Linked DNA regions of Homo sapiens: region 2 is reported to be linked to region 1. Evidence: microRNA targets listed by miRTarBase, many of them from high-throughput screens and not tested one by one. Region 1 holds a microRNA gene; the other region holds the end of a gene's coding sequence.

What was found. Region 1 holds the annotated microRNA hsa-miR-502-3p (AAUGCACCUGGGCAAGGAUUCA, at 2,922-2,943, shown strand). A microRNA usually pairs through its seed, bases 2 to 8, with sites in the 3' UTR of a target mRNA and lowers its output. Matches are read on the target gene's strand: a 7mer-m8 pairs with bases 2 to 8, a 7mer-A1 pairs with bases 2 to 7 and ends in A, and an 8mer does both.
Region 2: the mRNA of FCN2 is a reported target of hsa-miR-502-3p. The part of its 3' UTR that is shown has no 7-base or 8-base seed match.

The regions. Positions count from the first base shown.
Region 1 is chrX:50,011,728-50,016,902 of GRCh38, forward strand. MIR502 (microRNA 502) reads left to right here and starts at 2,871; the gene lies at 2,871-2,956. All of the region lies in intron 3 of CLCN5 (chloride voltage-gated channel 5), which reads left to right. It overlaps MIR660 (microRNA 660), which reads left to right and starts at 1,514; the gene lies at 1,514-1,610.
Region 2 is chr9:134,886,730-134,891,729 of GRCh38, forward strand. It overlaps FCN2 (ficolin 2), which reads left to right. Exons shown (of 8, transcript NM_004108.3): 8 at 439-794. The coding sequence ends at 686. Among named protein-coding and RNA genes, the nearest start is that of FCN2, 8.4 kb to the left of the region's middle. RefSeq lists an enhancer at 3,076-3,576.

The DNA.
Region 1 (5,175 bases):
ATTACTTTTCTGTACAGTCACAGATGAACACACTATATGCGGTGAGCCTTCCCTGTAAACCCATGTGAGCACATGTGCACACACGCACACGTGCACACACACATACTCTGTATGGCTGCTTGGGCCTTCAGTCCTGTTCCCCCTCTTGAATCCTGGTACCTGGATGCAAGTGCTGTGTCAATGCGGTGCACCCAGGCAAGCATTCCACGGCTGAGCCTTTTCTGCATAGAGCGAAGAACACCTGTTTATAATCCCCATCCTTCATTCATTCCCACCTTTAACAAGCAGGGGTGGCGCTCCTGTCATGCACCAGACATGGAGAGACAGGGTGGTCAAGAAAGACACAGAACTCATACTCACATGCCTAGTGAGCATGTTTAAGAGAAGGAACTTCCGTTGCCCACATTGTTCATGCATACGTATGTAGCAGAGAGTGAGTCTTCCCATCATCCCCTCTCCAACCCCCCAACAGTGCTCAGCTAGAGAACTACAAAAGGTGTGTCTCCCCTTACACAGAGCTGCAGCCACAGTGTGCATAGGATAATGAGTGTCATTAGCAGCATCTTCTCACTCATGTCTGGTGTGCAAGGCAATAGGCTTTCTACTTGCTGCTTATGCCACCAGAGCTTGAAGGAAAGTGGCCCTACTTGTCAGTCATCTCACACATGCATATGAAGAAAAGACACTTCACCTTTGTATGGTCATAGGAAAATCACCTGTGAGCCAGAGAGTGCTGTTTCTTTTGTACATACACACAAACACAATGGATTTGAAGATGCTCGAGCCTTCTATTCAGGTTGTCCCTCTCTTTCATTCTTCGTAGTTGGGTACAAATGCTATTCCAGTCCATTGCCTTGTACAAAAATTCAGAGAGGGAATCTCATCCATGTTTAAAAGTGTAGAGTCTTTGCATCACCCCTCTATGTCCCATTATTTCATTTCTTTAAGTTATGTATAGAGCAGTGGTTCTCAGTGTGGTCCCTGGGCCAGCAGCATCTGTATCACCTAGGAGCTTGTTCAAAATGCCAATTCTTGGGCTCATCCCTGACCTACTACACCATAAACCATGGAAATCTGTACTTTACCAAGGCTCTCAACTGATTCTGATGCTCACTTAAGTTTGAGAATCACTGATTTAGTATAAGTGCTAGCTAGGGGCAGTGATAAGCTAGTCAGGTGAAGGGTGGAAGAGAATGAGCTCCTGCATTGCTCATGTACGTTCCCAATGCCGAGTCCATGCAGACTGTGGCAGGGAAGCCATCATTTCATTACTGTCTCCACCTCCTCCATAACCACACATTCAGTGAGCACATGAGGCTAAGTGAACACACAACAAGTACTTTATTAGGGAATAGACTTGGCACTGCTTCTCCAGGCGTGCACCTGACACTTTAATCTCAATCTGTCTCTCTCTCAATCAATCAATCAATCTCTCTCCTCTCTCTCTCTTTCTCTCTTTCTGTCTTTCTTTCTCTCTCCTCCCCCACCCCCCTCCCATGTGCAGAAGAATGAACTGCTCCTTCTCCCATACCCATTGCATATCGGAGTTGTGAATTCTCAAAACACCTCCTGTGTGCATGGATTACAGGAGGGTGAGCCTTGTCATCGTGAATCTTCTGCTGAACAATCCAAGTAGCCCGTGTTTATTGCGCACTTTTGATGTGCCATGAGCTGTGCTGGGAGTACCCTGCTAAATAATGGACAGTGTCTCTCTCCGGGACTTCCTATCTAGTGGAGGTATTAGGTGCCTAGACTTCCCCAGGCCTAGGCAACAGACACAGGTGTGTCAGGAATTGAGCCTTCTCATTCTCTTATGAATACACATGCTCACATTGTGCATGCATGTGCACACACACATGTGTAAGTGTAGAAACATTTCTGTACAAAGCTGAAAGGAAGGAGCCTTATTATCTAAACTTGCCTGCAAGTTTCCTTGCCACACACACTCAGATGCATGCCTGGTGTGCAGGTGCCTGGACTTTGATTTTTGCTTGCCCTCTCCTAGCCTTGCAGCCTAGGCACAAGTGCTGTCTTAGCAGTGCAATGGGCTTGTGCAAGGATACCAGCTTGTGAGCCTTGCCTATGTGTAGGACAGAGCCTGTCCATCCCTTCTCTTTCCTTTGTTCATTCTTTCAGTCAGTCATTTGTGTGTGCATGTTTTTGGTCCATTCATTTATTCATCCCTTTAACAAATTTACTGAATTCCTGCTGTTTGGGAATGCCACAGTAAACTAACCTGTCAGAGATGCCGACCTTACTGTCTAGCAGGCTCATGGAGAATAAGCATCCTCATGTCATCCAACTTCCTGTGAATACATGGGCTCAGGGTGCCAGAAATCAGGCTTTTCTTTATTCCCTCCCACAGACATGGGTACCTGTGCAAATATATGTGGTGTGCACATCCTGAGCCTGCTGCTCTGCTTCCCCTTGTATCCTTGCCACCTAAATGTGCATGCTGTCTCAGTGCAGCACCTATTCCAGGACTCTCAGAGGGGCCTTTTTCTGCCCATAGACAGACAAAGTGCCTGTGAGTCACACTTCCTCCTCCCTCTCCTTCCCCTCTACCTCCCTTTCACAAGTATTGAGCACTTAGTACATGCTAACGCTGTGCTGCCAGGGCAGTGGGCATATGGTATCACACAAGATGGACTTGGTTCTTGCCTCAAAGAATATGTGTAGGAGACTTGACTTTTTGTCACCTAATATTCCTGCACGTGCTGAGTTAGTGTGGGCCACAACATGGGACTTCTTATTGACACCCTCTCCCAACATATACACAATGCAAGACTCTCATTCCTGTTCTCACACAGAGCTGTGTAACAGAGAACCTTCTCTGCTTCGAGCACGGCAGGTGCCCAAGCCTTCTGCCCTGCTCCCCCTCTCTAATCCTTGCTATCTGGGTGCTAGTGCTGGCTCAATGCAATGCACCTGGGCAAGGATTCAGAGAGGGGGAGCTCAACTGTACCAAGAAGGACAGAGAGCCTAGACATCACCCCTCCCACCCTCCCCTGTCATAGTTTTTGAGTGATGGGTGTGTGTTGGGGAAGCACAGAACAGAATAGTTAGGGACTTCAGGTGCTCTGGTGGGCTTGTCTGTGTATTAGAATAAATGTCCTTATTAAATAATGTCCATGTATGCAGGTATCCAGAGTGAGACAGTGAGCTTTCTCTGTGTTCCCCACCTGCTGTCCACACACAGGGTGGTGGGCGGGAACCAGAGCCTTCTGATTTGCTCCCTCACTTCCTTCCAACCTAGATGTGAGTGCTGTCTCAAGTATTAAGCCAAGGATTCAATGAGATGGAGCCTTGCCTACCTATATGTATATATATGGACTGAGTGCATATATGTCTCTTTTCTTGCCTTCCTATATCTTGAGTTTCTAGAGTGTGACAGATACTCTTTTTAGTGTTAAGGATGCAGTGACAAACGAGAGTCAAAATCACTGGATGTGCTCTCTGATGGGCAGCTTTAGAAGAAAAATTCAGACGGGCACAAATGATGGGGGCCAAAGAGAGAGTCTTCCTATTCCCCCCACTCTGTCCCCTCTGAGGACAGGGAGATGCACACATTCATGAAGATTTACACTTACAGAATGTATAGGAGTTTGAGCTTATAAGCTGCCCTTTATCTTCCAGGACATCCTGAGTAGAACTGTGAGCTGCCTTTAGATGTCTATTACAGACTCTTCTTGAATTAGAGGGGGTGAAGAGCAAGGGACCCTTCTTATTGCTGATCTTGTATGCACCCCACACAATATGGAAATGAGAACAGCCTATATCTTTATATTACCTTACTTTAGTCAAATAGAGATGGACTATACATGTCTCTGTTTCAGTCTATCGCTCTCTCTGTCCGTCTCTCCATCTCTCTCTCTCTCTCACCTAGGGAGTACAGGTGCCCATGATCTGATTCACTCCCCTCCTCCCATCCTTAGCGCCTGAGCCTGAGTGCTTTCTACTGTGACCTCAGCAGTATTCTTCAGTTGTTACTCTCTTCTTAGCTAAGCTGATCTATTCATTCCTCCCCATCTTATCATTTTTGCTCATTGCCCATTGCAAATTTATAGTGTTCAGGTCAGCGTAGCAATACAGTATTATAAATAGTGGTGACAGAGACAGAAAGAGACACACACTCCATTTCAGTCCTCAAGTTCTTAAACATTTGGGACTTATAGATTCTGATCCTTGGTCCTTCTTCTCTCCCAGATTCTCCCAATCTAACCTGCAGTAAAGATTCAGGTTATTTAATATGTGCTCCTTATCTTTTGTATACTCTAAAATCTCATTTTGGTTACTGCTCAGCCTTAGTCTTATTTTATCAGACTTTATACCTCTCTTGATGCCCAAGACTAGCAGCATCAGCATCCTCCAGGAACTTGTTAGAAATAAACTCTCAGGCCTCACCTCAGACCTAGGTAATCAGAAAGTCAGGGGTGGGGCCCAGCAATCTGTGTTTTAACAGCCCTCCAGGTGATTCTGATGCACACTGAAGTTTGAGAACCATTGGTTTAAATGACTTAAAATTTCTATTCTGTCATTACTAGGGGGATTTCTGTGTTACACAGGATGATTTTTAGCATCAAAATTTCCTTATGTGTAAATGGCTCTTTTAGTTTCTTTTCATATTTTAAAAATTCATAGACTTTTTTGAGCAGTTTTAGGTTTACAAAAAGATTGAATGGAAAGTATAGAGTTGTTATATATTCTCGAGACACCCCAGTTTCCGCTATTAACATCTTGCATGAGTGTTGTACACTTGTTAAAATTGATGGGCTAATGTTGAGACATTATTATTAAATAATAGTATAATTATAATGTATTATAACTATTATTAAATAATAGTTTAAATATAATTATTAATGTAAACCATAGTTTACATTAGAGTTCCCTCTTTGTGTTATATACTCTATGGGTTTTGACAAGTGTATAATGACATGCATGACCATTATAGTATCATACAGAATAGTTTCACTGCCCTAAAATTCCTCTGAGTTCTGCCTATTTATCCCCCCTCCCCCACCCTAAACCCCTGGCAACCGCTGATCATTTTTCTGTCTCCATAGTTTAGCCTTTTCCAGAATGTCATATAGTTAGAATCATACATTATGCAGCCTTTTCAGAATGGCTTATTTTACTTAGCACTATGCATTTAAGGCTCCTCATATCTTTTCATGA
Region 2 (5,000 bases), not on the chromosome of region 1:
GGGGGTCATGGGACACATCAGTGTATGACTGCAGAAATCCCAGCAAGGGCATCTGGTAGGAAGGAAGTCTCTGCAGAGCAGGGACCTATGCACGGTGACAGCAGCTGATATCTCTGCGGGGCATGGCTGGAAGGGGTCTGCCATGATGGAATCCAGAGTAGAGAATGATGATCCTGACCCCTGCCTCCTGTTCTTCTGTGAAATAAACATAGTACACATTAGGTGGCAGGGCTAGACCTAAAGACAATTTGCCAAGACCACTGCCAACAGCAGGGCAGTATTCACTGGAGTCATGGATTGCACTTCTTGGATTGTGCAGTGCACAACCTGCCTAACCATACATGGAGGACACACCAGGCCAGGCCTCAGGTATAAAGACTTATACTGTCTGTAATGATGTTACTGCCTGTAACGATGCTCACATTTCCTCCTGCACAGGAGATTCCCTGACGTTCCACAACAACCAGTCCTTCTCCACCAAAGACCAGGACAATGATCTTAACACCGGAAATTGTGCTGTGATGTTTCAGGGAGCTTGGTGGTACAAAAACTGCCATGTGTCAAACCTGAATGGTCGCTACCTCAGGGGGACTCATGGCAGCTTTGCAAATGGCATCAACTGGAAGTCGGGGAAAGGATACAATTATAGCTACAAGGTGTCAGAGATGAAGGTGCGACCTGCCTAGCCCAGGCCGGCCTCAGGGTCAGGACGCCTCCACACATAGTTGGTTGGGGGGTAGGGTTGGGAGCTTGGCCCTACGGTTTGTAAAAGAAACACATGTCGTGATTCTAAATTGGGTTTGTCTTGCTGTGCGGAAGAGGTTCAAATCCAGCTCTGTTTCCGCAATCAACCCTTTCAGATTTGTGACATTAACTCACCTCAAACCTCTGTCTTTCCTTGACAATGAGTAAGAATGTGTTCCTGACCATGCCAGCAGGAACCTTCCTTAAGGACAAATACAAGACTTTGAAGCTGCGATGGGCTCAGAGTGCAGCCCTGCTCAGGTCCCTGGGCAGGCTAAACGCCTTCCTGGGGCTCGACCATCTGGGCTTCTCTGTGAGCTGGATGGCAGGGAAGTCAGAAGGCACATTGGAGAGGAAGTTTCTCTTGCACTCAGAGATGCCGTTGCCTGTCCAAGGCCCCCAGCCTCGTAGCCGCAGCTCTGCTCACTCTCCCCCGTCACCCAGGCTTCCTGCCGCCTGCTGTCCTGGGTATTCGTGGGATCTGCTCGCTACTTCCTCACAAGCCGAAGCAAGAGTGGCAGTGTGCCTGTGACTCCCTCATCAAAACGGAGAGAGTGGTTACATGAGGCAGGTGTGAGGGACCCGAGCACTCCTGAGGAGGGAAGAACACTCCTCTTGGCCATGAGTGTCCATCCCAAAGCTGCCCTGCAGCCTAGCCCAGTGCAGATTGAATCAGAAAGCCAAAGCCCCTTCCACCCGCTTCTCTCAGGCAAGCTGCCTGCAAGAGAGAAAAGTGTATTAGTGCAGGAGCTTGTGTCTGCTGAGGATGGCACCTGGCCCTCTCCTCTCACCACGTCCGGGTCCTCCTGAGGACCGGTCCCCTGTCCCCGGTCCCCAGCCAGCTCAGCCTGACCAGGCTTTTAGAGGCTCCGCACCCCAGCATCGGCCAGTGCTGACCCTTGTACGGCTGTTTGGGTCCCCGATCACTCTCATAACAGCCCTGCCCTTGTCCTATACCCTCTACTCAGAGAGGATCCAGAAGGGTCCAAGGAGGCCATGATCCCTCCCTGAGCTTTTTCACGCGGGCCCCCTCCTTCCCCTACGAGGGTCCGTCCTGGGTCTTAGCTGGTCTAAGCCCTACACAAGTCATGGAGAGGGCTGTGTGTCTGGGACTTCTCGGGGGAGAGTGCACTGTTTCCTCTGAGTTCCTGGAGGGGGTGCGCCATGAAGATCAGGACACAGCCATCTTCACCTTCCCTCCTCACTCTGGGTCCGAGGCCTGGGATGAGCCAGGACAGCGGGAAGCAGGGATGGCCCTGGGCGTGGCACTTCCTTCCTTCCTGGGCCCGCAGGAGGGGGCCACACCACCCACCCAGGGGGCTGACCCGTCCTCAGGACAGAAACTAGCAAGCTGTCAAACCTGAGGGTTTATAACTAAATGACGGGGTGCTGCCCCTGGAAATTACACCCAGACATCTCTTTTCTCGTAGACCTGGGTCCCTAGCTTTTAGACAGGATGACAAATCACTGACAGGTGCTGACTTTACATGCACTGTGGCCTCACGCTTCAGCCATTCACTGCCAGGCAGTCTTCTAGGGCAGCAAAGAGCTCAGCCACACAGCCCGGGCCACTGTCAGGATGAGACCTGGCGTCAGACCTCCTCTCAGCGCCGCTTACCCCCCATTCTGGGCATTTCAATCTCCAACAGGAGATTTAAATGAAGAAAACACGCACCTCACACAGCTGTAAAGGGAGGAACTGGGAATTTCTCCCAAATCTTGACCCTTGAGTTCTAGAAATGGGGTTCTCCCTGGAATGCATGATGGCATTATTCTGGAAGGCAAAAATAAAGCTATTTAATATAGAAATGTTTTTAGCCTGACAAGCCAGAGATTTTTAAAAATATTGTTTTTTTAAATTTTCTTAATTGAGAGATGAGCTAAAAAGTAACTTTTTCTAAATATTTAATGTAGCTTTGCTATACTTTATAAATACTGTCAAGCTTTGGGGGGGTTTGTTGGGATAAGAAAATGTACTTATAAAAATGCAGTCAGTATGTCAGGAGGCTGGCGTAATTAACACAGCACAGGGAGGTCATGGAGGCTTGTGTAATTAACCTAACATAACATAAATGTATTTGCATGACACGTGCATCGCATGTGCATACGTGTGTGTGTGTGTGCACCTGCGGGGCCTCTGGGAGGTGTAACTGAGGCAGGCATCGGAAGGGCTCTGTAGGACCAGCTGGTACTGGGTGGGCACCTGGGAGCCACAGGTGCCTGCTTCTCCCATCCCCTGAAAGACTTGGCTCCTTCAGGCCACCAGTGCTGCCTCAGGGTGTCTGGCTCCCCTCCAGAGCAGGGGGCTGAGCCAGGTTGGAGCCTAGGCCAAGGCCAAGAGTGTCCCCAGGGCTGGGCTGTCCCTGTCCCTCTGCTGGGGACCGCTGCCTCCCTTCCTGCTCTTCAGAGGTCTCAGGCCTCTGCTGTCGGGAGGGCTGGAAGAAGGGGCAGCAGCTGGCAGGGGGCCTGTGCCCACTAGACCCTAGATTCTTAACTGTAACTGTGGTTTCTGTGGCCAGGCTGGGGGTGACAGAGGCATTCAAGCCAGACTCCATCTTGAATAGGGGCTGGGTGAAATGAGGCTGAGGCCTGCTGTGCTGCAGTCCCAGGAGGTTAGGCATTCTTAGTCATAGGAGGTTGGCAGGACGGGTATCACAAAATACAGGTCAGGATGCGGTAAAGAAGACGGCCAAATCCCACCAAAACCAAGACAGTGACAAAAGTGACTTCTGGTCGTCCTCACTGCTCACTATATGCTAATTATAATGCGTTAGCATGTTGAAGGACACTCCCACGACAGTTTGCAAACACCATGGCAACTTCCGGAACTTACTATGTATGGTCTAAAAAAGGGAGGGACCCTCAGTTCCCTGCCCCTTTCTTGGAAAACTCATGAAAGATCCACCCCTTGTTTAGTATGTAATCAAGAAATAAGTATAAAAATAGCCAGTTAGCAGTCCTCAGAGCTTCTCTGCCTATGGAGTAGTCATTCTTTTGTTTCTTTACTTCTTTAATAAAGTGGCTTTTACTTTATGAACTCGCCCCAAATGCTTTCTTGTGAGAGGTCCAAGAACCCTCTCTTGGGGTCTGGATAAGGATGCTTATTTTCCCCAAAGCTGTGAAGCCTTGCTTTGGCTGGAGTAACTGACATTGAAACCGCCACTGTAAAATTATGACTGAGACAATGAAAGAGATCTGACTTAACCAACTCCATCTTGCTTCTAACCTCCAAGCTGTGCTTGTTCATTCCTAGGCATAGGCTGAACTAACTTTGGGAGGAACTTAGTTTATAGTTCAAAACAAAGATGATAATAGCCCTTTCCCAAAACCTCCTTCTTGCCTGAGGACTAGACTCCTTTTGTAGGACAAATTAGCCACAAGATTAGAAATTATGGTTTAGGAGTCATGCAGCTGAAGGCTACACGATTCTGACCCTCTCTCAACTGCTCCTGAAGTCAGTACTTGGGATATTTTGCAGACCTTGCACTTGATGGATCAGCTGGCACCACCCAGCTCAATAAACTGGCTCGTCTGATCTTGTGGCCCCCACCTAGGAACTGACTCAGTGCAAGAAGACAATTCTGACTCCCTGTGATTTCATCTCTGACCAATCAGTATGTCCAGCTCTTTGGCTTCCCCCCAACCCTGACCAATCAGCACTCCTGGCTCATTCGCTTCCCCCCAACTCACCAAGTTGTCCTTAAACACTCTGATCCCTGAATGCTCGGGTAGACTGATTTGGTAATAATGAAACTCTAGTCCAGTATCCTGCACGGCGGCTCTGCGTAAATTACTCTTTCTCGATTGCAATTCTCCTGTCTTGATAAATTGGCTCTGTCTGGGCAGCAGGCAAGCTGAACCCACTGGGTGGTTGCAACATCAGGAAGTCCCCGTCCTTAGGATGAGAAAGGAGCCCGCCCTGCAGGGCTGGAACCCCATGTATCAGGAAGGTGAAGCAGTGTACTCAGAAAGCTCCTCTGCAGGAGAGAGGGCCATTTAACAAATCTAGGCCCAGGGCAGTCCTCCACCTCTGAGGACTCTCCCCATGAAGGTGTGATGCTCTCTGGGAATGGGAGCACAACTTGACCCTTCCCTGGGATCCTCATTCTCCACCCTGCCCCTGCTACACCTTTTCCAGACCTCATTCTCACTCGCCTTCACCTCTCCAGAATCTGATGTGCTTTCTGGTTTTGTCTTCCCTGTGCTCTGCCTTCCGAGCAGTAGCGGGTGCTCTGTGGAACCCTAGGACCCTTCCA